2 separate regions of the Homo sapiens genome follow, and region 2 is linked to region 1. Evidence: fine-mapped expression QTL. Tissue or cell type: whole blood. Region 1 holds a variant in brackets; the other region holds the start of a gene. All regions are shown on one strand. Distances are from middle to middle.

Evidence for each region. PIP is the estimated chance that this variant, and not a neighbour inherited with it, causes the effect.
Region 2: it holds the start of ENTPD1, and the variant in region 1 is fine-mapped to the expression of ENTPD1 in whole blood (INTERVAL, PIP above 0.99).

What each region holds. Positions count from the first base shown.
Region 1 is chr10:95,299,339-95,302,102 of GRCh38, forward strand. No RefSeq gene overlaps it. Among named protein-coding and RNA genes, the nearest start is that of PDLIM1, 9.7 kb to the left of the region's middle. The variant G/A (reference allele first, on the strand shown) is at 1,153.
Region 2 is chr10:95,754,946-95,757,577 of GRCh38, forward strand. ENTPD1 (ectonucleoside triphosphate diphosphohydrolase 1) reads left to right here and starts at 1,218. Exons shown (of 10, transcript NM_001776.6): 1 at 1,218-1,310. The coding sequence starts at 1,295. It overlaps ENTPD1-AS1 (ENTPD1 antisense RNA 1), which reads right to left. Exons shown (of 6, transcript NR_038444.1): 6 at 1-1,769. RefSeq lists an enhancer at 779-1,078 and a silencer at 2,409-2,468.

The DNA.
Region 1 (2,764 bases):
GAGAGTTTGATGATGAGCTGGATTCTTGTATGGTCTTAAATGTCTCCCTACAGATTGCTTATTTGATGCAAAGGAAAAAACAACAATGATGTGTCTTAGTCTGTTGGGGCTGCTCTAACAAAAATACCATAGACTGTTTAGCTTATAAACAAAGGAAATTTATTTTTCACAGTTCTGGAGGCTGAGAAGTCCAAGATCAAGGCACTAGGGGATTATCATGTAAGGGTCCACTTTCTCATACATAGCATCTTCTTGCCGTGTCCTCAAATGGTGGAAGAGGCGAACAAGCTCCCTTGGGCCTCTTTTACAAGGGCACTAATTCCATTATAAGGATGGAGCTGCCAGGCGTGGTGGCTCACACCTGTAATTCCACCACTTTGGGAGGCTGAGGCAGGCGGATCACGAGGTCAGGAGTTCGAGACCAACCTGACCAACATGTTGAAACCCCATCTCTACTAAAAATCCAAAAATTTGCCAGGCATGGTGGTGCACACCTGTAATCCCAGCTCAGGAGGCTGAGGCAGGAGAATCGCTTGAACCCGGGAGACGGAGGTTGCAGTGAGCCGAGATCACGTCACTGCACTCCAACCTGGGCGACAGAGCGAGACTCCGTCTCAAAAAAAAAAAAAAAGAAAACAGAAAAAAAAAAAGGATGGAGCCTTTATGATCTAATCATCTCCCAAAGGCCCCACTTGGGGGGTTAGATTTCAACATATGAACTTTGAGGGGGGACACAACATTCTTTCTGTCTTAGTCTGTTTGTACTGCTATAGCACAATACCTGAGACTAGGTAATTTATAAAGAACAGAAATTTATTTTCTCACAGTTCTGAAGGCTGAGGGGGAGAAACACTATGTCCTTACATGGCAGAAGGCCAAGAGAACCACACTCTGTGTGAAGCCTCTTTTATAAGGGCCTTAATCTCATTCATGAGGGAAGGCGCCTCATAACCTAATCACTTATTAAAGGCCCCATCTCTTAATACTATCACACTGGCCATTAAGTTTCAACACCTGAGTTTGGGAGGGGACACATTCAAACCATAGCATGGACTATAGTATGATACATGGCAAATTCCAACAATACCTTACCAGGAGATCAAAATTAACATCCCCAGTGAGGGGCAGAAGAACATCGTGTAACTCAGATAT[G/A]ATACTTTGATAAGGACACACCTCATACGTTACCTTCCAGGAAGGAATGCATAACCTGAATCTAATCATAGGGAAATATCAGACAACCCCCTATTAATAAAACTGAGTGTGGGTGGAACTATAGTCTTCAAAAAGACAATGTCCTGAGACAAAGAAAGGCTGTAGCTACGTTTCAGATTAAAGGAGAATAGGCTGGGCACAGTGGCTTAGGCCTGTGATCCCAGCACTTTGGGAGGCCAAGGCAGGCAGATCACTTGAGCCCAGGAGTTCAAGGCCAGCCTGACCAACTTGGCAAAACCCTGTCTCCACTAAAAATACAAAAATGAGCTGGATGTGGTGGCACATACCTGTAGTCCCAGCTACTCAGGAGGCTGAGGTGGGAGGATCACTTGAGCCTAGGAGGTTGAGGCAGCAATGAGCAGAAATCGTGCCAAGCATTGCTTAAGTTCAGGAGTTCGAGACCAGCCTGGCCAGCATGGTGAAACCCTGTCTCTACTGAAAATACGAAAATTAGTCAGGAGTGGTAGCAGGGGCTGTAGTCCCGGCTACTTAGGAGGCTGAGGCAGGAGAATTGCTTGAACCTGGGAGATGGAGGTTGCAGTGAGCTGAGATCTCCCAACTACACTCCAGCCTGGGTGACAGAGCAAGACTCCATCTCAAAAAACAAAAAAAAACAGACGTTATTGGATCAATTGATGAAATTGGAAACAGATGGAGGATTAGATAAAAGTATTGTATCAATGTTAAATTTACTGGTTGATAACTGGACTGTGGTTATGTAAGATAGTATCTCTATCCTTAGGAAATTCACACTGAAGTATTTAGAGATAAAGTGCCACAATATGTATAATTTATTCTCAAATGGTTCAGAAAAATGTTTGTGTATGTGAGTGTGTGTGTTGAGGTCAGGATGGGCATAGGGAGTAAATGAAGCAAATGGGATAAAATGTTAACAAAAGGGGGATCTTGGTAAAGGACATATGGATGCTCTTTGTACCGTCCTTATTCTTGTAACTTTTCTGTAGTCTTGAATTTATTCCCAAACAAAATGTTTTTTATTATTTTTTATTTTTTTGAGGCAGAGTCTCCCTCTCTCCCATGCTGGAGTACAGTGGTACAATCTTGGCTTACTGCAACCTCCACCTCCCAGGTTCAAGCAATTCTCGTGCCTCAGCCTCCCAAGTAGCTGGGACCTACAGGTGTACACCACAATGCCTGGCTAATTTTTGTATTTTTAGTAGAGATAAGGTTTTGCCATGTTGGCCAGGCTGGTATCGTACCCCTGACCTCAAGTGATCCACCTGCCTCATAGACACTGCGCCCAGCCCATTATTTATATACATATATATAATTATAAAAGGAATTATAACCCACTGGAGAAAATAAAAATCCGTAATGCATACAGATAATAAATAAATAGGCCGGGCACAGTGGCTTACGACTGTAATCCCAGCACTTTGGGAGGCTGAAGCAGGTGAATCACGAGGTCAGGAGATCAAGACCATCCTGGCTAACATGATGAAACCCCGTCTCTACTAAAAATACAAAAGATTAGCCAGACGTGGTGGTATGAGCCTGTAGTCCCAGCTACTTGGGAGGATGAGGCAGGAGA
Region 2 (2,632 bases), 460 kb after region 1:
TCTACATAGAGTCAAAACAGTCCTTCGGGCTCACAAATTTAATGATTTATATGGTATAACTGGCTTTAGATACAAATTTACATGCCAGACAAGCAATGTAGAAAAATCAAGAACTAGGAAACAGGAAAACAGATCTACATTTCTGCTTTGCTGCAATTCATTCATTTTTTTCAACCATTCATCAAATATTTATTGAGAGCCCATGCTGTGAGAGAAACTGTATTAGGTGCTGGGGAACATGGTAGCAAATAAGAGAGACCATGTATGTGAGCATGAGCAGGTGGCTTAACCTCTCCACATCTCTAACCTCTTTTAGACTCAATGTCTGAGGTATCTTTCAGACCTGAAATGCTAAGGTTTGCAACAGCCTTGTGGAGGGAGAAGCTGCCAAGTCGCCTTGGGACTTGAGGACTTACCTTCCTTTCAAAGGATTAGCCCTTGTTTTGATTTCAAAATAATTTTGTTACACAGTTTAAAAATAATTTGGTCAGGCTCTCATCTACATTGGGGTAATCTTGACGGTCTGGATGTGGTAATTCATGCTCATTAGACTTCAAAGGTAGGAAGTCAAAGTTGGGAAATGGTGGATGACTTTCATCAATTCATAGCCAGGCAGCGGTTCCCATTGAGCAGCTCCTCTGTGGTTCCACCCAGCCTTCCAACCAATAACGCAGCGTCTCCTGCAGGAAACTCATCGCTTGGGTCACCTGTTGCTCTTTGCTCTAATGAGCCTTGAGAAAGGATTGCTGGTCATGGGACCAGAGGCTTTATGGGGAGGGAAGAACTGTTCTTGACTTTCAGTTTTTCGAGCGGGTTTCAAGGTAACAACTTTCTTATTATCTAGCTTCATAATTGCAGTAAGGAATAGCTTTTTTTGCTTGCAGCTGAGATGACTTTTTCAAGGGAGAAAAAGGGATTTCTATAACGAAGAGAGGGAGAGAGAGATGAAGAGGGAGGGAGTAAGGGAGAGAGGGAAGAAGGGAGAAAGAGAGAGAGATTTGAATATACATTGCTTCAAGGATGCAAAAAATTACAACCTGGAAAAGGCTTCGAGTAACTTTAGGAAAATGAGCTGCTGGACTCCTCAGTCAATCTGTCCTTTCTAGTCAATGAAAAAGACAGGGTTTGAGGTTCCTTCCGAAACGGGGCCGGCTAATTTAGCCCCTCCCACGAGCCCAAGGGTCTGTTATATCTCTGTTTCCTTGAGGACCTCTCTCACGGAGACGGACCACAGCAAGCAGAGGCTGGGGGGGGGAAAGACGAGGAAAGAGGAGGAAAACAAAAGCTGCTACTTATGGAAGATACAAAGGGTAAGACCAAAATTGATTTGATCTGAATCCTTAAGAAAAAAAAAATAGAAGGAAAAATAAAAGCCCAGACCAAAAAGCAAGTACTTGAAAGCTGGAGGCAAAAAGCCCTGAATGAACTTTCCCACCCTCTTCCTTCTGAGAGGAGGCAGAGAAAGAGCTTTGGGAAACTTTTTAGGAAGCAGAGTCCAGGGTTGCAGTCAAGGGTGGCTCTAGAGCAAGCTGGAGGGGCTCATGAATATTCATTATCAATTTGTATTCAGAGTTGGTTTTTTTAGAGGCAAATGACTTTTTCAGTCCCCTTGCAGTTTAAGAGGCAGCTGCCTCATCTGCAGTCCGGACTCATCTAGCCTCGGGTCTGTACCTCAGGGTGTTTGCTTGAAGATGCTGGGCTCTGCGTGTAGATTTGTTTTGTTCTCGAATTTCTTGCATGCTTTCCTGTTGTGAAATTAGCAAAGGCTTCTTTGCTGGGAACAAGACAGAGAAGTTAATGTGGCACAAGGCTGTCACAACAGGACCCCAGAGTATGTCTTTCAAAATGCTGAAAGTTTCTTGAGATATGTGGGGGAGTTTTATGTGGGGGACAGAGTGGGGGACGGGGACGGGTAGAGGGAGGAAATAGAATAATTCTATCTTAAAAGGGCAGGTCACATCTGACTACATTTAGATTTTGTCTAAAAACTACAAGAGCAGCCTGGTTTGCACAGATGGTGTGCAGTCTCTATCTTTTACCTCTTTTGGGCATTTTCTGCCAAGACGGAGAGCCAGCTGCTTGCCAGCGTGTGAGAGCCAGGAAGAATCTCTGCAGCAGTGAGGGAGTATAGGGTTGTAAACCTCCTTCTCCTCCTTCTTTATCATCTCTAACTTCTAACATTCCCACATGCTTATACCGTATAGAACATGGAAGAATAGCATGAGTAGCCAACATATTTCTTAATACTTACAATAATGATAGCTGTTAATGTTGACTAAGTCTTTATTCTGTGTTGGGAGCTATACCTAGCATATTACATGTGCTACTTACTTGTCACATGAACCTTACAAGTGCTATCATTGACATTCCCATTTTCCAGATGGCATAATTGAGGTACTGAGAGGATAACTTGCCTTGAGATCTCATAGTTAGTAAGGGCTGAGTGTGGATGGAGGTGGTCTGAGGCAGGGCTGGTGGGCTTTTCCACTCCCCAATACTGTTTCTCTGCTTTTTCTGGTGCCCTGACATTGTGGATTTCAGGTTTGCAAATCCTTGAAGCTACTGGGGAAGTGATACTGGTAAAATCTTAAGTCTGTGAAGGAATTTGTACTTTGCACTCAAGTTCACATAC